Linked DNA regions of Homo sapiens. The protein of the gene in region 2 interacts with the protein of the main gene of each other region in a biochemical or structural test. Each region holds a gene or a part of one and is shown on either strand. Other genes may lie near its edges.

Region 1 (4,316 bases), on a different chromosome or scaffold from region 2:
ACATGTTCCCCAAAACCTATGGAAATTTAAAAAAAAAAAAAAAAAAGTAAAATCACACATACCTCCTAACCTCACCCACAACTCATCCCAATATCCAGAAGTAACAATTCTAACAGTTTCTCATGCAGCCTTCCAGAAATTTTTAAAATATACAGCACAGGAACACAAGTAAACATATACTTTAACGCAAAAAGGATAACAAAACACGTCACTTGATTTTATTTCAGACATGTTTCCATATTAGCAGATCCATATTTGACAAGTACACTGTACTCTTTTGTAGGAATAACAGTAGAGATGTATAATTTATTTACCAATACCCTAATGATGAACATTTAGTTTTCAAATTTTTTTCCAATCACAAAAATGTGCCACAATAATCATTCTTTTACTTATATCATCATGTAGAAAGCACCCTATTTCAACAGAATAGAAAGCTCTACTCATCCTAATTACCTGAGTCTTCAGAGTCAACACCTGGTCTGCCAGCTCCTCCTTCTCTTCTTTAAGCAACTTATGGATCTGATTGGACTTGATACGCTCTGACATGAGCTTGAAATTTGCATCATCCTTCTCCCGCAATTGCTGCATCAAACGGATATTTTGCTCCTGCATGTCTTCAAAGGCCTGGCCTGTGACATCCATTTCAGAGAGGAGTGCTTCTTCTTCCTAAAGGATGAAGGAAGAGATTTGATTTTAGAAGAATCTTCCAACTTCAATGGAAGAGCACAGGAAACTAAATTTTCCCACTGTTCATTTAGATATAAATTAATTTAGTGACAGAGTTTTAAGAAGTTGTGTTTTGTCACTAGGCATACAGAAGCTCTATTATCTGAAGTCACTGGCACCAATTGTTGGTCTGATACTTATTAGTTGATCTGTACTCAACGTCAGTTAAATTAGACAATAATTGTATTTACCTTAATCTAGACAAACGGATCAAGCAGCAATTGGTTAAGAGTACTTCCATCATAACCTCTCACATTTTCTCATGCTTTTCCACAATTAAAATACTGGATCTACAGGATTTCCAGCAGTTGCAAACATCTAAAGCCTTGTAACAATCTGATAGGTGAAGACTGGTATCTAATAATAGCTTTACTTTATATCTATCTCATTTTAAGTGAGACTGAGCATCTTTTCATATGGTTAAGACCACTTGTATTCTTTCCATAACCAACTCATTTCTTTTGCCTATTCTTCCACTGGATTCTTGAGTTTTTTTCCCTATTTTGGAGAGTTTTTTTTGTATCAGATAAGCCTTCTTTGTAATAAAAGTTAAAAATATTTTTTACTTTTTGTCATTTAATCTTTTGGCTTTGCTAACAGTGTTTTTTGCAGTGTAGAAGTTTTGCATCATTTTAAAAAATAACTCAAAATTATCAATTTTTTGTTCATGTTTTCTAGCCTTTTATTCATAGAAAGGTCTCCACTCCAAATTATAAAGGAATTTAATGGTTTTCTTCTAGCTTTTTGATGGATGCATTTTTTAAAATATCATATCTATGATCCATTTGGAAATCATCCTAGTGTATTCAAGTATGTATCTAACTTTTCTCTAACATTATTTTTTTTAATTTTGTCCCATCACATGTCACAGTTTTTCTTTTCCCCACTGATTTAAAACTATGTATTTAGCACATAATAAGTATCATGTGTACTTTCAACTACTTCTCAAGTTTCTATTCAGTTCTAATAGCCTGTCTAGTAGTCCCAAGCTATTTCATCTACAGAAACTTTATGTTTTAATATATGGAAGAGACCCCAGTGCTGTTCTTTTTCAATTTCTCTTGTTACTCTTGTTTACTTCTCCACATGTACTTTAAAACCAGTTCTTCTAGTACCAAAATAAACAAAAGCAAAACTTAAAAAAAGCACTTTTATGAGATCACATTATATTAATACATAAACTTAGAAAGACTGAACATTTTTAAGATAGTCATCGTATACAAGAACATAGTGTCTTTCTTTTTACTTGTTCTAGAACCTATAATAGTATAATTTCCTGATAATTACCTTAAGAGAGAGGGAAGAAAAAAAAAAGTGGCATTTACCAGATTTAAGAAAAGTCAAAATTACACTTTTTTTTTTTTTGAGATGGAGTTTTGCTCTTGTTGCCCAGGCTGGAGTGCAATGGCGCCATCTCGGCTCACTGCAACCTCCACTCCTGGGTTCCAGCAATTCTCCTGCCTCAGCCTCCCAAGTAGCTGGGATTACAGGCATGCGCCACCAAGCCCAGCTAATTTTGTTTTTTTTTTTTTTTAATAGTGATGGGGTTTCTCCATGTTGGTCAGGCTGGTCTTGAACTCCCGACTTCAGGTGATCCATCCACCTCGGCCTCCCAAAGTGCTGGGATTACAGGCATGAGCCACCGCGCCCAGCCCAAAATTACACTTGTTAACAAAAGGAATGTGTATAGGATCTAATGAAGTTCTTCTTTTCAAGGCACTTCATGATCAACTTACCATTAAACCTACTCCATCTCACTGTTATTTTGCTATTTCTTAGAAACAATGAAGGTGTACTAACAGAGAATACATATATGGTTTTTTCAAGCATTTTCAGTATCTTTATTATTGAATTTTAATAAAAATTCCCTGGCATTTAAAAATACATACATATTCATTATAAGGAGGAGAACAATCTCTATAGTTCTATGACCCCAAAATAGCCATAGTTAACATACTGCTTAATCAATGTTATTATATTGGTTAATAGATTATATCCTTATTATATATAAATCACATATTTATAAGCATAGTTTTTCTGTGTAGTATATGTACTACATAGAAATATATAATGATATATATTTATAAGCATAGTTTTCTTAGTTTCATATATTTGTAATCATAATGTATATAAAATCTTATGTCTTATTTTTCATTTTATATTCACTATAACCCTTAATTCCAGGTCAGCAAAGAAAGACTAGATCTTCAATAACTGTCTGAACAACAGCAGAGAAAGACTAGATCTTCAATAAATGTCCATTTAAATAAAAGTAAATTTCTTGCCTCACAAATACACAAAACAAAATAACAGAAAGATAAAAGACTTGAAGGTAAGAATTAAAACACACACACAAAAAGGAAAAATACACATTAACAATCAAAAAAAGACCAAAATAAAAAAGCAAATTTCACTGGCAATAACTTATTGTCAAGTAACATTTACTCAAAAAGTCAATTAAATAAAGAAAGTGAGTCCACCTGCTTGGCCATGGCTAGCTTCTTCTGTAGGTATTCTATCTGCTCCTCCACTGCCCGGATCTTCCTCAAGGCATCCTCATCAGCCATTTTCTTGTTCTCTTTCTTCTCTTTATCTTCCAGATCCTTGAGTCTTTGCCTTAGATCTTCCAACTATAAGAGGAAAGGAATTGCACAAAAATAAAAAGTTATAACACATTTTCAAAAATCAATTAATACTGTGCAAAGATAGAAGGTTCATAATACCAAAAGAGTCTTTACAGAATTATAGAACAAGGTACATAATATACTAAAACATTACATAACACCATCTGTTTTAACATCACTCCATTCTACTATGACATGCTTCTATAAGCAACACTTTTGAGAAGTGCACAGGTAACTTTCTTTAGAATAGTGGTTCCCATCCTTTTTTTTAGGCCTCAAAATTTTAAGAGCATAAGACATTCCTCCCAAAAGTAATGAAAAAGATTATCCCTGTAGCAATGAATTACATAGGAAAAACAAGGAATACATACTTTGGAAAGCCTACTCATAACCCCAGTAATTCAGATATATTTTACCATCCTATGGAGAGTTTTAAAATCTCTACTTCAGATGGTCTTTGAAAAGGCAGAAAATGTTGCACTTAAACACTTATTTTAAAGATAAAGAAAGAAATTATATCGTTGGCAAGTATAAAGGAAAATCCCACAAATGAAGATTTTAACCAGAAGGACAGGTAATAGCAGACTAGAATACCTCTGCCTTAGACTTCTTCTCAGCTGCCATCAGCTGAACTTTGTCTCTCTGTTCCTTTGGGGCAGAACGGTACATATCCAGCAATAGTTTCATCTCCTTTTGGCTCTCCTGTGCCTTCCTATGACAGGCGTAGTAGAGGGAGGGGAACAATGTAATAAGAAAATAAAGGTCATCAGAGCAAGGGAATTTTGATTGAGCAGAATATTTTAAAACAGTTTCATTTTACATTTCATATCACACCTAAAAGATAAAATTTTGCACAGACTATCAAAAGACTTTTGGATATGCTTAGAAAGTACAGAAAAGTAAGCTGTATAAAAATGAATCATTTCTCCCTTCAAAGTCCTCTAACAAAGTTATAAAACAGAC
Region 2 (4,316 bases):
AGACCTCCCTCTGCCAGGCCAGCCTTGGAGGGTGAGCTACCTCTCTATAGAGGGGTCACTGAGGGCAGTGCTGATGGATTTAAGGACAGGTGGCAGAGATGCCATAGCCTTTAGGTTGAGGGGCCAGATCTACATATCTCCTGGATGCTACAGCTATCCAGGAGAAGTGGCATGCCACTCACTCAGAAAGGGCTTTGCATGTATCTCCTGTGGCCAGCTTCATCATGCCTGTTCTTGGGGGACATAAATAAGCCTAACCTCCCCAAGCCCCCCACCCCTATAAGAAAGGGAGGAAGGGGCTTTTGCTCAGAGCAAAGCTGTTTAGAGGAAGACTACAGCATAGCAGTTAAAAGCTCAGGTTCTGGAGTTTCAATCCTGGGCCTGCCATGTCTTAGCTGAGTGACCCTGGGCAAGTTACTTTACCTCTCTGTGCCTTAGTTACTTCGTCCGTGTGTGAAGGTTAAATGAGTTAATATATACCAACTGCTTAGAAGAGTGCCTGGCATATAGTAAGTGTGAGCTACTTGTAGATATTATTGGGAATAACCAAGACATGTTCCAGGGCAGGGAGGTGACCAGCCTGACAGGAGGGGAGGATTTGGAGGAGTGATAGGAGATGGTATTGCAAAGGTGTTTTCGGGACAGGTTGGGGCCAGTCTGCCTGGACATACCCTCATCACTGAGAGCCCATTCTCTTACCTGTGGTACTCTCTTATTCTGTAGGTTGGAGAAAGAGTTACTGAGACAGCTGTGTGAATGTTTGTTTAAAAATGTTGGCTGGGGGCCAGGCGCGGTGGCTCATGCCTGTAATCCTAGCACCTTGGGAGGCCGAGGTGGGCGGATCATGAGGTCAGGAGATTGAGACAATCCTGGCCAACATGGTGAAAACCCATCTCTACCAAAAATACAAAAATTAACCAGGCCTGGTGGTGCGTGCCTGTAATCCCAGCTACTAGGGAGGGGGAGGCAGAAGAATTGCTTGAACCTGAGAGGCAGAGGTTGCAGCGAGCTGAGATCGTGCCACTGCACTCCAGCCTGGGTGACAGAGTGAGACTCTGTCTCAAAAAATGTTGGCTTGGCGCAGTAGCTCACACCTGTAATCCCAGCACTTTGGGAGGCTAAGGCAGGTGGATCACTTGAGGTCAGGAGTTCGAGACCAGCCTGGTCAACATGGTGAAACCCCGTCTCTACTAGAATCACAAAAAAATTAGCTGGGTGTGGTGGCATGTGCCTGTAATCCCAGCTACTCGGGAGGCTGAGGCAGGAGAATTGCTTGAACCCAGGAGGCAGAGGTTGCAGTGAGCCAAGATCATGCCACTGCACTCTGGCCTGGGCAACAGAGTAAGACTCCATCTCAAAAAAAAAAAAAAAAAAAGAAAAGGAAAAAGAAAAATGTTTACTTGGCTGGGCGTGGTGGCTCATATCCGAATCCCAGCACTTTGAGAGGTCAAGGCGGGTGGATCACTTGAGGAGACCAGCATGGGAAACATGACGAAACCCCATCTCTACTAAAAAAAAAAAAAAAAAAATACAAAAATCAGCCGAGTGTGGTGGTGCATGCCTGTAATCCCAGCTACTCTGGAGGCTGAGGCAGGAGAATCGCTTGAATCCGGGAGGCGGAGGTTGCAGTGAGCTGAGATGGTGCCACTGCGCTCCAGCCTGGGTGATAGAGCGAGACTCTCGAAAGAAAAAAGAGAAAAGTTTACTTTTCCCAACAAAGTTGAATAGCTTTTTTTTTTTTTTTTTTTTTTTTTTTTGGAGACGGAGTCTCACTCTGTCACCCAGGCTGGAGTGCAGTGGCACCATCTCAGCTCACTGCAACCTCTGCCTCCCATGTTCAAGCCATTCCTCCTGCCTCAGCCTCCCGAGTAGCTGGAACTACAGATATGCGCCACCATACCCGGCTGATTTTTGTATTTTTAGTAGAGACGGGGTTTCTCCATTTCCCAGGCTGGTCTCGAACTCCTGCCCTCAGGCGATCCACCCACCTTAGCCTCCCAAAGGATTACAGGCGTGAGCCACTGTGCCCAGCTTAAAATTGAATAGCTCTTGAACTCAAAATTTGTCTTTCTAATATCTCAGAAATTTACCTTGCATATTGTAAACATCCAGTGTAGTGTGACAGTCACTGTGTCCAAAGATGAGCATAGGTGCTATGGAAGGCTCCCACAGGTGCTGAACTGGGGCAGGGGTGGAGGTTTGAAAGCAACTTTTTTTTTTTTTTTTTTTTGAGGCGGAGTCTCGCTCTTTCACCCAGGCTGGAGTACAATGGTGTGATCTTGGTTCACTGCAACCTCCGCCTCCCGGGTTCAAGCAATTCTTCTGCCTCAGCCTCCTGAGTAGCTGGGATTACAGGCGCACGCCACCACGCCTGGCTAATTTTTGCATTTTTGTTTTTTTTTGTTTTTTTTTTGAGATGGAATCTTGCTCTGGCGCCCATGCTGGAGTGCAGTGGTGCGATCTCGGCTCACTGCAAGCTCCACCTCCCAGGTTCACGCCATTCTTCTGCCTCAGCCTCCCGAGTAGCCAGGACTACAAGTGCCCGCCACCATGCCCAGCTAATTTTTTTGTATTTTTAGTAGAGACGGGGTTTCACCATGTTAGTCAGGATGGTCTCGATCTCCTGACCTTATGATCCTCCTGCCTCGGTCTCCCAAAGTGCTGGGATTACAGGCGTGAGCCACCATGCCCGGCCCCCAATTTTTGTATTTTTAGTAGAGCTGGGGTTTCACCATGTTGGTTAGGCTGGTCTCAAACTCCTGACCTTGTGATCCGCCCACCTCGGCCTCCCAAAATTCTAGGATTACAGATGTGAGCCACTGCGCCTGGCCGAAAGCAACTCTTGATTGAGAAGTTGAGGTCTCAGATGTAATATTCTTGCTTCTTGTCTTCTCTTTCCTTTTTTTTTTTTTTTTTTTTGAGACGCAGTCTCGCTCTGTCGCCCAAGCTGGAGTGCAGTGGCACGATCTTGGCTCACTGCAACCTTCACCTCTGGGTTCAAGCAATTCTCCCTGCCTCAGCCTCCTGAGTAGCTGGAATTACAGGCGTGTGCCACCATGCCTGGCTAATTTTTTTTTTTTTTTTGAGATGGAGTCTCGCTGTGTTGCCCAGGCTGGAGTGCAGTGGTACAGTCTTGGCTCACTGAAAGCTCCGCCTCCTGGGTTCACGCCATTCTCCTGCTTCACCCTCTCGAGTAGCTGGGACTACAGGCGCTCGCCACTACACCCAGCTAATCTTTTGTATTTTTAGTAGAAACGGGGTTTCACCATGTTAGCCAGGATGGTCTCGATCTCCTGACTTCATGATCCACCCACCTTGGCCTCCCGAAGTGCTGGTATTACAGGCGTGAGCCACCGTGCCTGGCCTGATTTTTGCATTTTTTAGTAGAGACGGGGTTTCATGGTGTTGGCCAGGCTGGTCGTGAACTCCTAACCTCAGGTGATCCGCCTGCCTCAGCCTCCCAAATAGCTGGGATTACAGGCGTGAGCTACCGCACCCAGCCCTTGTCTTCTCTTTCAACCTTGAAGCAGAAAGTTAAGAAAGTTGCTTCTGGTGGCTGTGTAGTTTCTCCTTCTGACCCTTGCTGCACACATACTCTAGAATTCCAGAGCTGTGTGAGGGATCTTGGAAAGCAGACACCAGTGGCCTCTGTTTACAGATGAGGAGGCTGAAGTCAGTGGTGGAGCCAGGCCCAACATCAAGGTCCCCTGCTCTCTGGGCCTTGCTCCTGCTTTTTAGATGGTTGCTTTTGGTCTTGAGGAAGGGACAAGATGGAGAAGAAGAGGGTTCATTTCAGATTCGGTGGCTGTTTGGGTTTTGTTTGTTTTGGTTTTTAACACTTCCAGGGCTGTGTTGATTATAGTTTTCTGTATTTCACTTTCTTGTCAGATTTTGTCCCTACTTTCCTAGCATAGGTAGGCAGAGCGGGGAACATTCTCTTTTGACAGCCCTTATCCCAGCAGGCACATCTGCAACCAAAGCAGGTGCTAATGTCAAAGGGCTCATGGGCTAATGTCAGGGCTCATGTGATGCTCCATCTTTCTGAGAGGAGACCACCTGACTCACGGTGAGGAAGAGGGTGTAACTCAGAGGTTGAATAGCCTCTGAACCCGTCTGAGATGGCTTATAAAAAAGTGTTTCACACCAGCACGCCTCTCATTAAGAACAGTCAGCGGCCGGGCACGGTGGCTCAGGCCTGTAATCTCAGCACTTTGGGAGGCTGAGGTGGGAGGATCATGAGGTCAAGAGATCGAGACCATCCTGGCTAACACAGTGAAACCCTGTCTCTACTAAAAATACAAAAAAAAATTAGCCGG
Region 3 (4,316 bases), on a different chromosome or scaffold from region 2:
GTAAAAATTATTCATTTTATTAAGTCTTGAGCCTGTGTACAGTTTTTTAATATATTGCGTGACAAAATAGGCAGTACGCACAAAGCACTTCTGCATACCGGCAGATGTTGTCTGGAGAAAAAGCACTTAAGTGAAGAGCGGCAAGTTAAACCAGCTGCTTTTTTTCATGGAACACCATTTTTACCTTCTGAAAGAACAAATGATAAACTATGGCTATTCAGACTTAGCTACCTGACATTTTCTGGGGAAAAAAAATGAGCTTGCTACTTCAAAGAAAACAATTGACAGTATCTCTTGCTAATGAAAAGGCTGGGTTTTATGTAAAAATTAGAATTTTGGAAAACATTTGATATTTATGAGCCTGACAGCTTCCCATTAATTAAAGACTTTTATGATGAGATGGGCAGTGATATTAATGAATGTGAGGATTTTCTGAGGGGAAAGGAGTACTGTATAATGAAATGTGTCAATATTTGGAGATCTGCAAAACACAGTGAATACTATTTCAAGTCACTAATGCATGTTACAAATCAGGCATGGGTAAAAGATCCATTTGAAGTTCACGAAAGACCAACAGGTTCATAAACAATTTCAGATTCCATACTCCAACAAAGAAACTAGCACTTGCTGAGTTTTTGTATAGTATCACAAGAAGATTCAGGCTGGGAGCAGTGGCTCACGCCTGTAATCCTAACACTCTGGAAGGCTGCAGAGAGTGGACCGCTTGACCTCAGGAGTTCACGACCAGTACGGGCAACATAGCAAAACTCCACCTCTACAAAAAAAATACCAAAAAAATTAGCCAGCCATGGTGGCATGCGCCTGTAGTCCCAACTACTCGGGAGGCTGAGGTATGAGAATCCCTTGAGCCCAGGAGGCAGAGGCTGCAGTGAGCCGAGATAGCACCACTGCACTCCAGCCTGGGCAACAGAGAGAGACCTTGCCTCAGGAAAAAAAAAAAAAAAAAAAAAAAGATTAAATTACCTGAAAAGGCTATTTAAATAATATTCCTTCCTTTACCAACTACATATCTGTGTAAGCCTAGATTTTTGTGTATTTCCTTTTCTTTTCTTTTTTTCTTAAGAGATGGGGTGTCTCACTCTGTCACCCAAGCTGGAGTGCACTGGCATGATCATAGCTCACTGCAGCCTTGAAATACTGGGCTCAAGTGAGATCCTCCCAAGTAACTACAGACTGCAGGTGTGCACCACCATGCCTTGCTAATTTTTAGTTTTAGTGTTTTTTGTTGTTGTTGTTTTTTTTTTTTTTTTTTTTTTGAGACGGAGTCTGACTCTGTCACCCAGGCTGGAGTGCAGTGGTGCTATCTTGGCTCACTGCAACCTCCACCTCCCGAGTTCAAGTGATTCTCCTGCCTCAGCCTCCCAAGTAGCTGGGCCTACAGGCACATACCACCACACGCAGGTAATTTTTGTATTTTTAGTAGAAACGGGGTTTCACCACGTTGGCCAGGCTGGTCTTGAACTCCTGACCTCAGGTGATCCATCCGCCTCAGCCTCCCAAAGTGCTGGGATTACAGGCGTGAGCCACCGCGCCTGGCCGTGGATTTTTTTATAGACAGGGTCTCACTATGTTGCCCAGGCAGGTCTAGAAATCCAGCCCTCAGGCAATCGTCCCACCTCCACCTCCCAAAGTGCTGGAATTACAGGCATGAGCCACCACACCCAGCCTTCTTCGTTTATTTCAACCAAAATAATATATTCCAACAGGTTAAATACAGAAGCAGACAAAAGACTCCAGCTGTCTTCTATTAAATAGCCATTCATTACAGGCCTCTATTGCAATGCCATGCTTCTCTTAATTTTGTTTTGGAAAATAGTTATTTTCCTAAATTATTTGTTAACTTGTAATGGGTTTATCATTGTTATTTTACGTGAGTATTTTTTAAAAATTGTTTTAATTTCTAATAGAGTAAATATCGACAGTACAAACATAAAGTTCTTGGGATTCTCTTTTTTTTTTTTTTTTTTTTTTTGAGACAGCTTTTTCACCCAGGCTGGAGTACAGCAGTGCAATCTCAGTCCCCTGCAACTTCTGCCTCTTGGACTCAAGCCATCCTCCTGCCTCAACCTCCAAGTAGCTGGGACTACAGGCACGCACCATCACACTCAGCTAATTTTTTTTTTCTTTGTAGTTTTTTTTTGTAGAGATGAGGTCTCACCATATTGCCTAGGCTAGTCTCAAATTGCTGGGCTCAAGTGATCCTCCCACCTCAGACTGCCAAAACACTGAGATTACAGGCCAGGATTCTCAATTTTTAAGAGTGTAAAAGTGTCCTAAGACCAAAATATTTGAGATCCCTAATACAGGCAATACCATTTCTCAATGCAGGTTTATTATTTTTAATTCTTATTTTGAGAGACAGGGTCTTGCTCTGTTGTCCAGGCTGGACTACAGTGGCCTAATTATAGCTTACTGCAGCCTCAAACTTCTGGGCTCAAGCAATCCTCCTGCCTCAGATTCCTAAGTAGCTAAGACTACAGGCATGCACCACCACGCCTGGCTACTTTTTTTTTTGTAGAGACCAGGTCTTACTAGCTGGCCTCAAGCAATCCTCCTGCCTCAGCCTCGCAAAGCACTGAGATCACAGGTGTGAGCCACTGCATCAGGCCACAAGTTTATTTTAAATATACATTCATCTCTATAGTTGTAAAACCAAAGAGTACTACATATTTCTACATTCAGTTTACTCAGGGATATATGCACATATCACATTATCAACAATATCACATTATCAACAATAACATATGACTTAATCGGTAGGCCATCTATGATAAAAAGTGAATACTTGGCCGGGCACGGGTGGCTCATGCCTGTAATCCCAGCACTTTGGGAGGCCGAGGCAGGCGGATCACGAGGTCAGGAGATCAAGACCATCCTGGCTAACACAGTAAAACCCCGTCTCTACTAAAAATACAAAAAAATTAGCTGGGCGTGGTGGCAGGCACCTGTAGTTCCAGCTACTTGGGAGGCTGAGGCAGGAGAATGGTGTGACCCCAGGAGGCAGAGCTTGCAGTTAGCCGAGACAGCGCCACTGCACTCCAGCCTGGGCAACACAGCAATACTCTGTCTCAAAAAAAAAAAAGCGAATACTTTTTTAACAGTAATTTCAACAGCCATACATGACTGGACTATATCTAGAAGGTAAACAGTATTTAAAGGACAAGCTGAGCTTGCAGGGTTAATTAGTTTATGGCTTTTTTTTTTTTTTTTGAGACTAAGTCTCACTCTTGTCACCCAGGCTGGAGTGCAATGGTGTGATCTTGGCTCACTGCAACCTCCGCCTCCCGGGTTCAAGCAATTCTCCTGCCTCAGCCTCCAGAGTAGCTGGGATTTACAGGCACCTGCCACCACGCCCAGCTAATTTTTGTATTTTTAGTAGAAACGGGGTTTCACCATGTTGGCCAAGCTGGTCTCAAACTCCTGACCCCAGGCAATCCACCCGCCTCCCAAACTGCTGGGATTACAGGGGTGAGCCACCGTGCCTGGCGTTTTTTTTTTTTTTTTGAGACAGAGTCTCACTGTTGCCCAGGCTGGGGTGCAGTGGTGCAATCTCGGCTCACTGCAATCTCTGCTGCCCAGGTTCAAGCAATTCTCCTGCCTCAGCCTCCCGAGTAGCTGGGATTACAGGCACCGGCCACCACGCCCGGCTAATTTTGTTGTATTTTTAATAGACACGGGGTTTCACCATCTTGGACAGGCTGGTCTTGAACTCCTGACCTCATGATCCACCTGCCTCAGCCTCCCAAAGTGCTGGGATTATAGGCGTGAGCCACCACGCTGGGCCCTATTTTTTTGGGTTTTTTTTTTTTTGAGACAGAGTCTCACTTCGTCACCCAGGCTGGAGTGCAGTGGCACAATCTCGGCTCACTGCAACCTCTGCCTCCCGGGTTCAAGCGGTTCCTCTGCCTCAGCCTCCTGAGTAGCTGGGAACTACAGGCGCCCACCACCATGCCCAGCTAACTTTTGTATTTTTTGCTGGAGACAGGGTTTCACCATGTTGCCCAGGCTGGTCTCAACCTCCTGACCTCGGGTGATCCGCCCACCTCAGCCTCCCAGAGTGCTGGGATTACAGGTGTGAGCCACCACGCCCAGCCAGTTTATGGTTTTATAGTAGATTGTAAGATACATGTATTTATAATACATAACATAGGGAGAACTAAAGCAAAGATTATTCTGTCTCAAATTTAGTGTCATATTGCAAAAAAAGGTGTAATTAGCTGATTTTTCTGAAAAATCCTTTGTGATATGACAAATCATATAACCTCTGAAAAGCATTGGAAAGAGAATGGCTATAA
Region 4 (4,316 bases), on a different chromosome or scaffold from region 2:
ATCCACCTGCCTTGGCCTCCCAAAGTGCTGGGATTGCAGGTATGAGCCAACACACCCAGCCTCACGCTTTTTTTTTTGAGACGGACTATCGCCCAGGCTGGAGTGCAGTGGTGTGACCTCGGCTCACTGCAACCTCCGCCTCCCAGGTTCAAGCAATTCTCCTGGCTCAGCCTCCCCAGTAGCGGGATTACAGGCGTCCGCCACCACGCCTGGCTAATTTTTTTGTATTTTTAGTAGAAACGGGGTTTCACCATGTTGGCCAGGCTGGTTTTGAACTCCTGACCTCAAGTGATCTGCCTGCCTCACCCTCCCAAAGTGCTAGGATTACACGCATAAGCTACTGCGCCCGGCTTGTGATTTGCTTTTTTCACTAATGTCTTAAGATCTTTCCAAGTCTGCCTCATGAAAACAAAGTTTATGAGAGAACAGTCATACAATACATGTAAGAATCACAGTACAGCACGGTCACGGGGAGGGGGACACTGACTGGAAAGGGAAAGGGCACAAGCAAACCTTTGTAAATATTCCGTCTTCATCTGGTGGGTGGTTTATACACACACAAAAATTCACCAGAAAGTATACTTAGGATTGGTGCACCGTCTTTTTAAATTTTTTACTTTTTCTTTTTTACCCTGTCTTATGGTGCCGAAGACTGGTGCACTTTAAAATATATGTTTGCTGCTCTGTGGTCCATTAAAAACAAAACAAAAAAATGTGTTATTCTTCTAAAAAGTTTAAAAATCTGTATTACCATGAAAGCCCATATGCTTATTACTTGGTTGAAGGGAAAAGAAATCATTGGTTTGAAAGTCTCCTATGGGGCCTCGTCATCTCCCACCTCATACTATCCTGAGTTTCTTATATCTTACTTTTTAAAACAGATTTGCCACACTTTTGCATCTCTAAACACTTTATTGATTAGTATTGTGTGATTCTGAGCGAGACTCCGTCTCAAAAGAAAAATTTGAAAAGTTGGAATTCTGATTCGAATTGCACTGACTCTATAGATCAGTCTGAGGAGATCTGACCATTTTGTAGTATTAGGCATCTTCTAACCCATGAATATTGTATATTTAATATAATACAATTTTCTCCACGGGTCGTACAGATTTTTATTTTTCTGAGACATGGTCTTGTCTGTTGCCCAGGCTGGAGTGCAGTGGTAAAATCACAGCTCACTGCAGCCGTAACCTCCCAGGCTCAAGTGATCCTCCTGCCTCAGCCACCTGAGCAGCTGGGACTACAGGTGTGCATCATCATGCCTGGTTAATTTTTTAATTTTTTTTTAAGAGATAGGGTCTCCCTGTGCAGCTCGGGCTCGTCTTGAACTCCTGGGCTCAAGCAATCCTCTCGCCTCAGTCTCCCGAAGTGCTGGGATTATAGGCATGAGCCACCATGCTTGCCTCAGATTTTAACACATTTATTTTTAAGTACTTTTATTTTCTGATACTACTATCGACAGAGTATTTTTAAAGTTACATTTTACAATTGACTTTTTGTACAGATTTTATATCTGGCAACCTTGCTAAACTCTTCATTCTAAAAATGTACCTCTGACTTTTTGGGTTTTCTACATAGATAATTATACCGCCTCTGAAGAATGATAGCTGCTTTTTCCTTCCTTTCCAGGCTGATATGTTTTATCTCCTTTTATTGTGTTACTGTGCAGACTAAACTCTCCAGCATGAGTCTGAATGCAGGTGGAGAGTAGCAGGCCACCCTTGCGTATTCCTGACCTTACAAGGGGAATGGCGGGGCGTGGCGGCTCACTCCTGTAATCCAGGCACCTTGGGAGGCCCAGGCGGGAGGATCACTTGTACCCAGGAGTTTGAGGTTGCAGTGGGCCATGATCGCACCACTGCGCTCTAGCCTGGGTGACAGGGCAAGAAAGACTGTCTGGAAAAAAAAAAAAAGGAAATAATTTCGATGTTCCACTATGAAGTATGATATGTGATGTAAGATTTTGGTAGATATCCTTCAACAGGTTAAGAAAGTTTCTTTCTGTTACCACTTCATTAAGAATTATCATCTCGTGTATTTCATATTTATACAGCTAATTGAATAACTTACAGTGATTCATTTTCTACCATTAAACCAGCAATGTATTCCTGGAATTGTCTTTTTAAATACGTTTTCAGCTGCGTTTTTTTTTTTTTTTTTTTTTTTTTTTGAGATATGATCATAGCTCACTGCAGCTTCGACCTCTTGGGCTCAAGCAATTCTCCCACCTCAGCCTCCCAAGTGGCTGGGGTTACAGGCATGTGCCACTGCATTTGGCTAATTTTTTTATTTTGTGTAGAGACAGGGTCTTACTATGTTGCCCAGGCTGGTCTTGAACTCCTCCTGGCCTCAAGCAATCCTACCACCTCAGACCTCAGCCTCCCAAAGTGCTGGGATTATAGGCATGAGCCACTGTCCCTGGCTTTTTTTTTTTTTTTTTTTTAGAGACAGGATCTTGCTATGCTGTCCAAGCTGGTCCCAAACTCAAACTCCCTGGGCTTAAGCAATCCTCCTGCCTCAGCCTCCCATGTAGCTGGGATTACAGGTACGTGCCACAACACCTGGCTGCCCTTTCTTCTTTTCTGATACGGCACGTAAAGCCTTCTAAATACCACTTTAGCCACATACCAGTTTTCATGCATATTTTCAGTTCTGTATTTCCAACAAAATTTACTCTTTAATCAACAAGTTGTTTAGAAATTTTTCTTAATTTTAAAACTATATAATCCTGTTATTCATTTTTAAACTTTTGAATTGAGGTGTAATTCACATAAAATGGAATGCCACATTTTGTTTACCCATTCATTTGTTAATGGACATTTGGGTTGTTTCTACCTTTCGGTTATTTGAATAATGTTGACACAAATATTCATGTACAAGTATTTGTTTGAATACCTGCTTTCAATTCTTTTGGGTACATACCTAGGAGTGGAATTGCTGGGTCATATGCTAATTCCGTTTAACTTTTCAAGGAATCACCAACTGTTTTCTGCAGCCACGATACCACTTTACATTCCTACCAAGCAATGCGCAAGGATTCCAATTTCTCCACATCTTTGTCAACACTTATTATTTTCCCTTTTTGTGGATTATAGCCATCCTAATGGGTATGAAATGCTATATCACTGTGGTTTTGATATGCATTTCCCTAATAACTAATGATGTTAAACATATTTTCGTGTACTTATTGGCCACTTGTACATCATGGGAAAAATGTCTACTCAAGTCCCTTTGTCCAGTTTTTAATTATTTGTCTTCTGTTGTTGAGTTATAAGAGTTTTCATATATTCTAGAAAACAGACTTTATCTGTTTTTAATATTGTTACAACTTTAATCCATCAGTTTCTCAATTTTTGCTTTTAAATCCTTAGTTTTTCTTGTATCTCTGGTAATTTTTTATTTTTATGTATTTCAAAGTATATATTTAGATATATAAAGATTCATGAGTTATAGCCTTAAACAGCATATTGTATCAATATGAAATACTTCTGCATTTTAGCGGTTTTCTCATTTTTACTTTGCACATTATGAGTACTGGCGACACTGATATTGTCACATCTTTTTTTTTTTTTAATAGTACCTCCCTCATTTAACATTCTCTTCTCCTAAGCTTCCTCCCACCTCAAATACAAAATTTCAACAAATCTTGGAAGGAGATGAGTTACCTGCACATATTTCCTCAGTTGAACCAGAAGTCCTTATGTATTTTTCAAGTCTAGACTGTGGTTTTTAAACTTTTCCAACTGTGAGTTACCATGGGAAAGCTGATGTTTGCGTAAAGCCACCAACTCCACCTGGCACCTGACCCTGGAGGGGTGTTGTGGTGAAACTCAATCACGCCACCTTTGTCTACCTGACTCATGCATTTTGTGTAATAGAGAAGAAATGACAAATTGTAAACTCTTTCAGTGAAGATAAGCCTATCTGGGACCCATTTTTTTCATCTGAATTTAAACCAAGAGAAAGAGGAATCCAATGGTTCACTTTGAGAAAACTGGAAATCCTGAGGCAGTAAGATAAAAGTATGAATCTGCCACAGTAAGTGGCTGAGTGAGAAGCCAAGAGGAAGCTGTGTGAGTAGCTCTCTCCTTTTCAATTTACCTCAACCTCAGACTATTTTCATACAAAGTTCACGGACCAAACTTTGAGAATCAGTAGTAGTCTATATGAACAGAAAACACTGGCATACAGTAGGAGGTCAACAAATAATTCATAGTCATGTTCACTTACTTCTGAATATCTCCAGTGTTTCTTTGTTTGTTCTTACTTTTCTTTTCAGACTTGGGTGTAACTGGATCAGATTTTCTGGAATTCAA
Region 5 (4,316 bases), on a different chromosome or scaffold from region 2:
CAGCCCCTTATGGCACTATGAATTAGGCACTGTTTAGAGTATAATTAGGACCAAGAAATTTGAGAAAAAAATAGGAAAACAATATATCTTATGAAACCTGGGGAATGAAAAACTTCTAAATGAACCCCAGTGCATTAAAAATCAGCAGCTATAATTCCTATTCAAAAAATTACTTCCTACTCACACTCAGATCCAAAAAGTGTTTCTTACCTTTTGATAATGCCAGGGAGTGGTAGTGTCCACAGGAAACTTGTATTATTTTTATATCATTCAGAGTCATTATTTTCCTATAATACAAATAATACAAAATTGATTAATCCTTATTTAGAGCGAGTTGTCCGGTGGACTACAGATATTTAAAAGTATCTCAAATAATACATCTGGTCCAGGAAAACTATTTTATTTTCTTGTATTTCTATAGTACCTTTATTTCAAAGCCCTCAAACTGTTTTTAACATGACATTAACATGTACCAAGTTATAGGACAGAATCCAAAACAGTATATAAATGCAAAAGCCATTGCTATTGGACTTTAATGCAATATCTAATATACTAATTTTATTCTACACTTAATAGCCTAAAAGAGAAATAAATTTTTTCTGCATATATAGTATAGGGCCTTAGAATTTATAGAACACCAACAACTTCATCATCTAATTTAAGCCCTAATTTAATGAAGAAATCATTAGGTTAAATCATACAAAATTGCCATTTTTGTGGATCAAAACCAGATAACTATCAGCAATTTCCTTTTTTTTTTTCACAGACGGAGTCTTGCTCTGTCACCCAGGCTGGAGGGCAGTGGTGCGATCTTGGCTCACTATAACCTCCTCCTCCCGGGTTCAAGTAATTCTACTGCCTCAGCCTCCCAAGTAGCTGGGATTACAGGCATGCACCACAACGTCCGGCTATTTTTTTTTGTATTTTTAGTATAGACGAGGTTTCACCATGTTGGCCAGGCTGGTCTCGAAATCCTGATCTCAGGTGATCCGCCCACCTTGGCCTGCCAAAGTGCTGGGATTACAGGTGTGAGCCACTGCACCTGGCCACTATGAGCAATTTCATAAGGTGAATCTAATGGAACTCAAAGAGGTCAAATAGTTATGATGCTGTAGAACCAGACTCAAATTCTGGTCTTTTCATTCCAAGTTCAATGCTCATTTCCCCAAGTCAAATTGATCTCTTCTAGAATTTAATGACCAGAAGAGGTAACAAGAGGTGATTTCCTAATATTAAAAAGCATGCGTTTGAAAATCCCCTAAGTATGTAATTCATAAACACATAATCCAGAGCCAACTACTTGTCATATCTGTCCTGGGAAGTTGTTTGTGAGGAAATGTGATATTTCCCTCCACTTTACTAAGTAAAATGTTAGGGCCCAGTGGTTTATGACAAGCCAAAAGGTTGTGTTGAGAAAAAAACTTCTCTTCCACCTTTGGTCCAATATTTGGGGGCTTGCAAATTAACTGACAATAGATTAACAAGAGAAAAGACAAAGGTTATTTACAAGCATGCTCGCTATTGCAGAATATCCCAAAGTAAAGTTTTATATATGTCACCTTAATAAAAGGCGGGGTTTTGGGACTTCAGTGGGAAAGTATAGAAGGTTCTATTGGGCTTTTTGATGGTAATAGTAATGGGTGGTCTATCTTAATGACAACTGAATTCCCAGGAAACTCTCACTCAAGGAAGTTACTGGGAACTGCATTTTCAGGAGGCTCTGTTTTAGTATGATAAAGGAAGTTCAGGTAAGATTTATATCTGTATCTTTTGCAGCTCAAATGTTTCTACTTTACAGTGGTCTTTATACCCACTCTGGAGGTCTAAGTTGGCCCCCACAGTTATATTCCAAGAGATAAGATTAAGATCAAAGGGTCACATCTCATTTCACTCTGCTCTAATTAAATAATAATTGGTGTTGTAGGTTTTTTCCTCCCTTCTTCCCTCACTACACTGTAGTCCTTCAGGTTAGGAACTGTGTTTGTCATAGTCTTTTTTTTTTTTTTTTTTTTTTTTTTTTTTGAGACTGAGTCTCCCTCTGTTGCCCAGGCTGGAGTGCAGTGGCGCTGTCCCAGCACCACTGCAACCTCTGCCTCCCAGGTTCAAGCGATTCTCCCGCTTCAGCCTCCTGAGTAGTTGGGATTGCGGGTGCCTGACACCATGCCCGGCTAATTTTCTTGTGTCTTTTTTGTAGAGAGGGGCTTTCGCCATGTTGACCAGGCTGGTCTCAAATTCCTGACCTCAAGTGATCTGCCCACCTTAGCCTTCCAAAGTGTTGGGATTACAGACATGAACCACTGCAGCTGGCCTGTCATAGTCGTCTTTGTATCCTGGCATCTTGCACAGTGCCTGGCACATGGTACTATATATATTGAATAAATGAAGGAGTGGGTTGAAACACTTACTTAGGTGTGAAACTTATTTCCTTGAATTCTCCAATCCCCAGCTGCCCTTCAGAACCAGCTCCCCATGCGAAGACCCTTCCTTTGTGGCACACAGCCAGGGAGTGCTCCTTCCCGCAGCTCACGAGATCAACAATTAGGGTTTCCAATGCCTGAATTGGTTCTTTGGGAAACAAAACAAAACACCCCCCAACCACCACTGCAGATTATTAATTTAACACAAGTTTAAGACAGCACTTTTCTTCAAAAAGAAGGATCATCCAGATTTCTTGTCTCCTCCAATGGTCTTTTGAATCAAGACCTTAAGTCCATTCTAAATGTCTGAAGGAAGTAAATTCAATGTATGTTACCCTGTCTTTATAGGATACAGCTCTGTTAAAATAATCAACAGGGAGACTATCAGGTTGAGATGGCTCCAGCACCTTGGGTTCCTACCTAAGCAAACCAAAACCCAACTCAGAGTGATTGATCATAGCCTAGGAAAATGAAACTTAAGGTTAACCAATCAGAAACCACCAACTAACATCTAACTAGAGACTTTACCAACCAGAAACTGCTGACTACTTCAAACAAGGGACTTTCCACTTTAACCAATCAAGTATTTTCTTTGTCTTGCTTCCTGGAACACGTTATCAAAGGTTCCCCCTGGCATCTCCTTGCACCTCCCTTAGTGGAGCCCAACTGCTTGAGGTCTGGTGCTGCTCAATTCATGAACTGCTGAATGTTCAAATTGACTCTTAAAAACATTCAATTACCCAAGTCTATCTTTTAATGGCTGTTATTTAAAGGAGTAGGCATCACGGAGGGGGTAACTTCTAGGGACTATGACACATGACCAAATGTTTCTCTAGCAAAACCTAGCAAAATAAAGAGACCCAGAAAAAAGTTGGGATCTCCTCCATTTTGCTATTCTGTCTTCCCACCCTAAACACTGAAAGCAGTGAATCCCTTGCTCAGAAGGAAATTGGAAGGGAGCCTACCTCATGAGTGTGAGAGGCAGATGCTGGATCCTCTTACAATGAAAAGTGAAAAATATGCCCCTATGGAGGCCCTAAATATGCCCACAAATGAAAACCGGATCACATTTCCCTACAAGCCAACCTAAACTGCTTTCCCAAGGTGTCTGTCTCTGAATTATTAGAGGTTTGGAGTTGAGAACATCATACCAGTAAAGTTTTTGCAACATTTAAGATTTTGTTTTTCCTTTTATCTTTGTAATCTTATCTTTTTCAACTATTTACTGTCAATTTATGCAAGGTTAAAATTTCCCAAAGATTCATGCACTCACAAAGATAGAAATTGGTACCATTTTTCTAGAGAACAATTTGGGGTTAAGTATCATGTTGCCCTTCATTTCCAAATGAGGGTGATAAGACCTGAAAACATGCTACTTTAAGAATTTGAGCTGAAGGCAATTGAGAATCAACAGATGCAGGAAGAGGTCTCTGCTCTCTTCTTATCTACCTAAAAGTAGGTCATAAATATCCTTTTGTGAGAAGCTCCCATCTCTGGCACCAAGAAAAGGGTCAGCCGGGCGCAGTGGCTCATAACTGTAATCCCAGCACTTTGGGAGGCCGAGGCGGGTGGATCACGAGGTCAGGAGTTTGAGACCAGCCTGACCAACATAGTGAAACCCCGTCTCTACTAAAAATATAAAAATTAGCTGGGCATGGTGGTGAGTGCCTGTAATCCCTGCTACTTGGGAGGCTGAGGCAGAAGAACCGTTTGAACTGGGGAGGCGGAGGTTGCAGTGAGCCGAGATAGTGCCATTGCACTACAGCCTGGTGACAGGGCAAAACCCCATCTCAAAAAAAAAAAAAAAAAAAAAAGAAGAGAAGGGTCACCTAAGATGAAGACTTGGCACTGAGGTGAGCCTGCATAAACAAGTCAATTAAAATAACCCTTATCTTCCAT
Region 6 (4,316 bases), on a different chromosome or scaffold from region 2:
CTATCTTGGCCTCCCAAAGTGCTGGGATTATAGGTGTAAGCTACCATGCTAGCCTTGTATGATTTAAATGTGTAGTTTATTTTAAGTAAAATTATGCTTTAATAAGAAAACAAAAAACTGGCCAGGAGCAGTGGCTCACGCCTGTAATCCCAACACTTTGGGAGGCCAAAGCGGGAGGATCACTTGAGGTCAGGAGTTCAAGACCAGCCTGGCCAACGTGGTGAAACCCCGTCTCTACTAAAAATACAAAAAAAATTAGCCGGGCATGGTGGCGGGTGCCTGTAATCCCAGCTACTTGGGAGGCTGAGGCAGGAAATCACTTGAACCTTGGAGGCAGAGGTTGCCGTGAGCTGAGATCATGCCCCTGCACTCCATCCTGGGTGACACAGCAAGACTCCATCTCAAACAAAACAACAACAACAACAACAACAACAACACCACCACCACCTAAGTAGGCTGTACTTCTGCTGAAGTCTATAAAAAAGTTGGTTAATCATTCTAAGAGACGTCCCCTTCAGATGCCAACCTCACACAAGAATAAGCTAGTGATTCCCCAAGGTTTATGGGATCCTACTAGCAGATATACAAAGTAAATTATCACAATTACTTAATAACTACTTTAACACTCATCCTTGCCCACTGCAAGGCCAAAGGAAGCATTCCATTTGCTTAAGCAGTAGACTAAGACCATAGCATTTTTAATGGATACAGCAAAACAACTTGTGGGCTGGCTCCAAGGCCTCGGACTGCCCCATGAGCCCTATCAAGGAAGTTCCTGAGATGATATCTCCATTTATGGAAGAGAATTAGGAGGCAACCATCAGCAGGGTAAACAGTTACCTGACCAGGAGTGGCCACCGAAGGGCACTTTGGTTCTGGGCAGTTGAGGCATTGAACCTGGCCATCTCTGATCTGGATTTCAAAGTAGTCCTTCAGACAGGCTTTGCAGTACACATGCCTGCACTCCAAGAAGTACATGCATTCACTACCCAGCTTCTCACAGAAACAGATACTGCACAGGAACAATTTACTATTAAAGCATTTTATCTGCTGAGCTTGATCAAAGTCCAAGATTTCCTGGATCAGATTTGACAGTGATTCCACATCCTGCACTGCTCTCTCATCCACAATTTCCTCTTGGTCTACATCAGATCCAGCAGCTCCTCCAAAATCTAGCTCTGTGTTGGGAGAAGCTTGAGCTGTCCTTCTCTGCACTTTTTTCTGAGAACCAATCTTGAGCTCAAAAGGAGAGACAATATTCAAGTATGCTAGGGTCTCTTCCTTAAGAAATTGCATCCAGGCAAACAGGACCACGCTGCCACGGTGTTCTTCCCATAGGTTGTCTAAGTGCTTGCATAGAGCAGATAGCTAGGAGAAAACACATGAAGATGTTGGTGAGTTTGGAAAGATGATGCTGCTGCCAACTCCTGGTTTCCCTAGAAATCTTTTCCACTTGCAAGTTAGGCCCTTATTCTAACACTATTTTTTACTGCTGTGATACACTGTGCTACATACAAAACAGTACAAACATTCTTACTGGAGCACTTCTTAAACTATTCGGCAACATGAGCCAGAGTAGAACATAAAGTCAGAAGCAAGAAGTACCACGAGAAGAAGAGAAATAGCAAGACTCCGTAAGGTAGAGAAATAGCTGTACATTTTAGCCACTGAAATGGAAGACTTTTTTCTGTTCTTTAATCTTTTAGTACTGCCATATACCTCATGTAGGACAAAGAGATCTAGTTCTAAAAATAAACTATTTTTCTTCCATTAGGAGTCCTAGCCCTGTTCGTATCCTAGAATAATGGTTAGAAAAAGAATAGTTTAAAAATACTATCCAAGTTTTAAAATTAATTCTTTCAGTTTTATCAAAAAGTCAACTCATCTGAAACAATCACTAACAGAATTCAACCTCAGAGTCCTTGTTCAGATTTACAAGCTGCTTTTAAGTAAGCAATCTGGGCTTATATCAGATCCTGGTTAATGGAGGGAAGCTGCCTGATATTGACCCTGGTCCTAATCACAAGCCCTCAGCAAGGTTTGGCAGCCATAGAGAAAGCTTACACTTCCTAAGCTAAGCAACCAAAATTAAATTATTTGGAATTTTCCTCTTTAAAAGTGGTCTGTTCAATTTGAAAGGCAAATGTTGGAGAATTTTCCATTAGAAATATAAAATATTTTTAACTAGAGCACAGGAATTATAAGCAGCTTTTCTTTTTTAGGTAAACATCCAAAAATATGCCTTCCAGATGGCAAACAAATTTTGTAAATTTAAATGACAAATGAAAAGGGACCAGATTTTCTGTTTCTTACACTCTGTGTAGTGCCACTGACTAAACCCTGCATAGGTACTACCTTAAATACTTATTGATGAGTTAAGATTGAACAACTAATGATTTTTCACATTTGCATAAATATCCTTATAAATCAACCATGCTTTTGAGAAATCTGCTAACATCTGTAAAATGTGATAAATACTAAAAGGGAAGCTATGAGTGCTGTGTGAGCTACCAAGTCCTATGAAGAAGCCATTCTCCAACCTCTTTTCTACCCCAGTCCCTTCTCAAGAGAGGCAGCTGGGGCTGGGCGTGGTGGCTCATGCCTGTAATCCCAGAACTCTGGGAGGCCAAGGCGGGTGGATCACCTGAGGTCAGGGGTTGGTGATCAGCCTGGCCAACATGGTGAAACCCTGTCTCTACTAAAAAATACAAAAAATTAGCCAGGTGTGGTGGCGGGCGCCTGTATTCCCAGCTACTTGGGAGGCTGAGGCAGGACAACCACTTGAACCCACTAGGCAGAGGTTGTAGTGAGCTGAGATTGTGCCCCTGTGCTCCAGCCTGGGTGACAGAGCAAGACTCCATCTCAAAAAAAAAAAAAAAAAAAAAAAAAAAAAAGAGAGAGAAAGGCAGCTGGAATGCATGTAAATGGAAGGGGGACGGGAAAGAGACTGTGTAAGTATATTGGGGGAGGAATAAGGAATAAGGTTTTAGAAAACTAAAACCACTTCCCTCTGTCTACCCGCCCCAATTCAGGGAATGACAGCTCTATGTGTCAATTTCACCATTAACAGGTGAGAGTCATAATGCCAAGGAATCAGGGTACAGCAACAAACAAGAACTGAACCAAGAAGGAATATAAGAGACCAATTAAAATGTTAATTATATGCATAAACATTTATTTGATTAAGAATTCTACTGTAATTTTAGCTGTAACACATAAAACAACTCTCTTCCCCAGCACACACCTCCGCCCCCAAATCCAGCATTAAGTAGATGCTGGTTGGCTGGAATCTGAAACCACAACCACGCATCCAGTTAATCTGTCCCTGTTTTGTGCGTGTGTGTGCATGCACGTGCATGCACGCACATGCGTGGATGTAAAGTATGAAAAGCTCTCTGGTGAAATAGGACTATGAAGATCTAAATAATTAAGCCAACTATCAGTGGCCTAAATGCCAAACAGTCTTGATATTCCTGGACAAATCAACTGTCTTGCATCTGTTGCCTCTGGCACAGACATTAGAATGTAAAGTAATACTCCTTTTTATTCTACCTGTGTTATCCTTTTTAAGGTTTAATTTTGCTTTTAAACCATAAGCTCTAGTTTGTGAAAGTACTCTCACTTAAAAGATTAGATTGGTGGATGGGGAAATGAAAACTGTATGATCCAAAGAGAAAAACTAATGAGCTATTCCTTGAGGTCAGCAACTCTGACATCTTTTGTCTTTTTCTTTTTTTTTTTTTTTTGAGACAGGGTCTCTGTCTGTCACCCAGGCTGGAGTGCAGTGGCTCAGTCTTGGCTCACTGCAATCTCTGCCACCCAGGCTCAAGTGATCCTCCCACCTCAGCCTCCCAAGTATCTGGGATTACAGGGACGCACCACCACACTTGGCTAATTTTTGTATTTTTTGTAGAAATTGGGTTTCGCCATGTTGCACAGGCTGAGCTTTTGTCTTAATACACATTAGTCTATTGATCTTCATTATGACTTCTAGAAAAGCAGCTGCTGATTCATTATCTCTCCCAGAATGCTTTATATTATTTATATTTAGCTTCAAGCCATATTTATGTCTCAATCAAGAGTTGAGGTTGTTACTAGAAAAGTATATATAACCCAGAGGAAATGAGGTGCTTAACATAAGGCCTCAAGCCTTACTGAGATATCTACAGGAACTATACACATTTCTACTTGTATGCATTTATGTCTACGTGATACCAGTTGACTGTTATTTGTTATTAATACAGATTTTTACAAAGAAAATCAGTTATTGTATTCACTCAGAAAATTTGCTTATTATAACTACATTAGCTCAATTT
Region 7 (3,771 bases), on a different chromosome or scaffold from region 2:
GGAAGTAAGTTATGGAAGAGCACAAAGAGATTGAGGACATATATGTTATCGGATTTATCCAAAATAAATTTCTAGAATGAAGAAAACTTTTTTTTTTTTTTTAAAGGAAAGCCACCCAAAGATTAGGGAGTAAGCCTTTAGTTTAAATGTTCAATTTAAGTATTGTCAAGCCTAGGCTAAATAGAGGACTGCATTTTCTTAGAGTGTGGAATACAACTTATTTATTTCATTTTTGTTTCTCTTTCTCTTGCTCTTCTTTTTGTCAGCAAAAAGGGGAAAAGCTATTCAATTAAGTACAAAGGAAATTCCCTGTAAGGTTAAAATAAAAAATGAAGCTACCATTCAAGGGAACTTCTCTGTATTCAACCCTAATGTCAGTGGTTTATCACTGAGTTGGAATTAAGTGAATCAAAGTCTCTATCAAGCATACTCCACCTAGCATACCATCTGTACCTGTAATTCATTTAGAGCCCAGATGTGTGCAGTTCACACTAAATGTACTTGTTCAAGCCAGTCACTTGAGGTTTGAGGTGTTTGACTTGAAACATCTGAACCATCTCCTCTGTTGGCTGCCTCGTTACCACTGTCACCAGCTTGAGATGCTGCTTCCCCCGCCAGAATATTTTCTTCCAAAGGATTTTCTTCTATCTGGGTTCCTCTACCTTCACTGACACTGGCATCTTCAAACATTGAATCTTCTGGCAGCACCAGTTCCACATCCTTCACACCTTCTGACCCATCTTTGATACAGGGGAGCTGGGAATCTGCACTGATTTCTGTAGTTGCTGGAGGAATCAGGGCAATACTCTGAGGGTTCATGTCATGAAACCAAGCCATGATGTTGCCGAGAAGATTGTCATTGATGTTGGGGTCCTGGCCAGCTGAGTCAGGATCACTAGATGAGGGACAGAAATCACTTCTTGCCTCACTGAGAGGGTGTGAGCTCAGGGTGTCAGTTGAAAATGGGTCATTCTCTGCTCCTAGTCTCATGAGGCTGTCACCAAGTTCCAAAAGCTCAGAGCTGCTCAATGCAGCCCGAGGGCTATCTGTATTTCTGGGGACAGAGTCCAGCCTGGAAGGTAAAGAAGTGCCTATCGCACCTAAGGATGCTTCATTACTGAGGAAGTCTCTAGTTTCTTCATCGAGGGCCAGCCCAGACTCTTGCAGTGATAACTGTATTGCAAGAAGTATATTGGGATCGTCTTCATCCAAGGAACTCAGAGCCTGAAGCAACAGAAAGCAAAACCACTTTAAAATTTGACTGAAAAAAACTGATTTAACTCAATCAGGTTTACCATTCTTCCTTTACCAACAGATTATTAATTTTATTTATACAGAAAAATTATTTTATCTACTAAAATCTTGTATTTTTCTCCATGCCCATGCTAAAGGAAAAAAAAAACATACCTTAAAATAAATCTAAAATATAGGAATATCTTTTCCTGCAGCACATCTTTAAAACAAAGATTTTAGAATGGAAGGAAGAAATAGGAAAGCGATGAAAGTAACAACAGGAAACCACACTCAGCAGAGAAAGAGTAAAAGCACAGGCAATGAGGCTGTTCAGAAAGGCTACCTGAAGAGAGTCCTGGTTTTCAGAGCGACTGGCAGGGGTGTAGTCACGCAGGGAAGAGCTGTGCAGCACACTCATAGATGCAGAACTTACCACGGATGTGCCAGGCCTGCGGCTGCTGCTGCCGCCTTCTGGAATATCTGTTTCAAAGCAATTGGTACCAAAGACAATTTAGTGACAAATAAGACTTATTTATTTTTTTCATACATCTGGTTGTTTAGATGGGCAATTTCTCTTTCAGTGCTGGGGAAAACCTGTGTTGACATGTTCACTTAATCTTTCTGGGATTTCTCATCCATATTTGTCTTACCATGAAGAATAATATATATATGATACTATCACTTCAAATCCGTAACTTTTTACTTTTTTTTTTTTTTGAGATGGAGTCTTGCTTTGTCGACCTAGCTGGAGTGCAGTGGCGCAATCTTGGCTCACTGCAACCTCTGCCTCCTGGGTTCAAGCGATTCTCCTGCCTCAGCCTCTCGAGTGGTTGGGACTACAGATGTGCACCACCATGCCTGGCTAATTTTTGCATTTTCAGTAGAGATAGGGTTTCACCATGTTGGTCAGGATGGTCTCCATCTCCTGACATTGTGATCCGCACACCTTGGCCTCCCAAAGTGCTGGGATGACAGGCATGAGCCACCGTGCCTGGCTGACTTTTTTACACTTTTGCTTGCAGTCTATATAGTTCTATTCATAAATGCAAGTGCTACTATCCATTTCTCTTTTTTTGTTAAGCAATAACTAATAAACGTTTTTCATTTTTAGATTTCTTAAAATTAAATAATTTGGGAATTACAATAGTCTGAAGAGCAAATCTTTAGTCCCATTGATCCTGACATTATAGTCAGAAGATTTTCACTTAATAATTTAACATTTAAAAGTTGAATAATTAAAATAATTTATCTCTAATGCCAGAAATTCTCTCTCTTTTAAATAATGTCTACAGGACAACTAAGGCTAGGAGACAAATATTCCATGAACACAAAACAGTATCAATCAATACTACAATTAACTGAGTGCTTCACTAGGTGCTTAAGTGTTTTAGATGCATTATCTAATTTAATACTCACAATGAGCCTATAAGGTGGCACTATTATTATTGTGTCTTTAGAATATGGAAACAACCTTAGAGAGGTTGTGACCTGACTAGGTTACACAGCTAATATGCAGCAGAGATGGGGTCATGAATCCAAGTTTGCCTAACTCCACAGACCATGCTCCTAACTCCTCTGATTTTCTGTGTCCTGTCACAACAGAAACATCTGCATATTTATTGTATATCTAAATGACAAACTCGTTCACAAAAATTTACATCAGCCAGTTTGAAGGATAAATTCAGGGGAGCTATGAGATTAAACCATACTCAATGCAAGGACTTACCTAAAGTGCTTTCACTTGGCTCATCAGGGTCTGGAGGATTACTGAGTAGACTGTGAACATCTCCTCGACGACGTTGTCTGTGCCTCCTCCGATACTGAAATTCAGCATATTCCTGCATAAACCAAAGGTTATAAAATACAAGAGAGCATGCAATTTTTAAAATGCAAATAAAACAAAGTACACACTTTTTTCCAGGGGAAAAAGTTTGTGATTTTATACACATCTTATAAAATCACTTGGCTGAAACATCAGGTTTTGCCATGCCAAGGAAACACAAAAGGTAAAATGGAAAAAGAAAGTTTTCAACAGTCATTACAATTGCCTAGATAAATTAGGAATACTTGCAAGCCCCAGTGCTACATTAGAACAGCCCTATTTTATATGCCTGATGATTTCAAGGATCTTGTTATCTAATTAATACTACAACCATATTACTCATTTAAGTAAGGCTTTCCTTGAAGGGAGGTTTTTTATTTTTTATTTTTTTATTTTTAGAGTCAGAGTCTTGCTATGTTGCTTAGGCTGGTCTTGAACTTCTGGCCTCAAGCAATCCCTACTGCTCGGCCTCCTAAGTAGCTGGGATTACAGGTGTGAGCCATTGAAACTGGATATGAAAGTGGCTTTAAAAACGTGACCAGGGGTGGGTGCTGTGGCTCACGCCTGTAATCCCAGTACTTTGGGAGGCCGAAGCAGGCAGATCACCTGAGGTCAGGAATTTGAGACCAGCCTGGCCAACATGGTGAAACCCCATCTCTACTAAAAATACAAAAAATTAGCCGGGCGTGGTGGTGGCACCTGTAATCCCAGCTACT

The links.
Region 1: the proteins of UBE2L3 (region 2) and RNF20 form a complex in vitro, tested with the Homo sapiens proteins (2 studies listed by BioGRID).
Region 3: the proteins of UBE2L3 (region 2) and TRIM13 form a complex in vitro, tested with the Homo sapiens proteins (one study listed by BioGRID).
Region 4: the proteins of UBE2L3 (region 2) and RNF168 form a complex in vitro, tested with the Homo sapiens proteins (one large-scale study listed by BioGRID).
Region 5: the proteins of UBE2L3 (region 2) and HERC6 form a complex in vitro, tested with the Homo sapiens proteins (2 studies listed by BioGRID).
Region 6: the proteins of UBE2L3 (region 2) and RNF14 form a complex in vitro, tested with the Homo sapiens proteins (2 studies listed by BioGRID, with this or other methods).
Region 7: the proteins of UBE2L3 (region 2) and ANKIB1 form a complex in vitro, tested with the Homo sapiens proteins (2 studies listed by BioGRID, with this or other methods).

What each region holds. Positions count from the first base shown.
Region 1 is NC_000009.12:101,553,737-101,558,052, reverse strand, and holds part of RNF20 (E3 ubiquitin-protein ligase BRE1A), read right to left. Parts: intron 4,066-4,316; coding exon 3,948-4,065; intron 3,360-3,947; coding exon 3,210-3,359; intron 670-3,209; coding exon 457-669; intron 1-456. UniProt on the Homo sapiens protein: Component of the RNF20/40 E3 ubiquitin-protein ligase complex that mediates monoubiquitination of 'Lys-120' of histone H2B (H2BK120ub1).
Region 2 is NC_000022.11:21,573,903-21,578,218, forward strand, and holds part of UBE2L3 (ubiquitin-conjugating enzyme E2 L3), read left to right. Parts: intron 1-4,316. UniProt on the Homo sapiens protein: Ubiquitin-conjugating enzyme E2 that specifically acts with HECT-type and RBR family E3 ubiquitin-protein ligases.
Region 3 is NC_000013.11:50,006,698-50,011,013, reverse strand, and holds part of TRIM13 (E3 ubiquitin-protein ligase TRIM13), read right to left. Parts: intron 1-4,316. UniProt on the Homo sapiens protein: Endoplasmic reticulum (ER) membrane anchored E3 ligase involved in the retrotranslocation and turnover of membrane and secretory proteins from the ER through a set of processes named ER-associated degradation (ERAD).
Region 4 is NC_000003.12:196,479,540-196,483,855, forward strand, and holds part of RNF168 (E3 ubiquitin-protein ligase RNF168), read right to left. Parts: coding exon 4,231-4,316; intron 1-4,230. UniProt on the Homo sapiens protein: E3 ubiquitin-protein ligase required for accumulation of repair proteins to sites of DNA damage. Acts with UBE2N/UBC13 to amplify the RNF8-dependent histone ubiquitination.
Region 5 is NC_000004.12:88,381,470-88,385,785, reverse strand, and holds part of HERC6 (probable E3 ubiquitin-protein ligase HERC6), read right to left. Parts: intron 2,602-4,316; coding exon of another isoform or gene 2,566-2,601; coding exon 2,406-2,565; intron 288-2,405; coding exon 211-287; intron 1-210. UniProt on the Homo sapiens protein: E3 ubiquitin-protein ligase which accepts ubiquitin from an E2 ubiquitin-conjugating enzyme in the form of a thioester and then directly transfers the ubiquitin to targeted substrates.
Region 6 is NC_000005.10:141,975,355-141,979,670, reverse strand, and holds part of RNF14 (E3 ubiquitin-protein ligase RNF14), read right to left. Parts: intron 1,369-4,316; coding exon 841-1,368; intron 1-840. UniProt on the Homo sapiens protein: E3 ubiquitin-protein ligase that plays a key role in the RNF14-RNF25 translation quality control pathway, a pathway that takes place when a ribosome has stalled during translation, and which promotes ubiquitination and degradation of translation factors on stalled ribosomes.
Region 7 is NC_000007.14:92,395,665-92,399,435, reverse strand, and holds part of ANKIB1 (ankyrin repeat and IBR domain-containing protein 1), read right to left. Parts: intron 3,072-3,771; coding exon 2,960-3,071; intron 1,714-2,959; coding exon 1,577-1,713; intron 1,225-1,576; coding exon 487-1,224; 3' UTR 1-486. UniProt on the Homo sapiens protein: Might act as an E3 ubiquitin-protein ligase, or as part of E3 complex, which accepts ubiquitin from specific E2 ubiquitin-conjugating enzymes and then transfers it to substrates.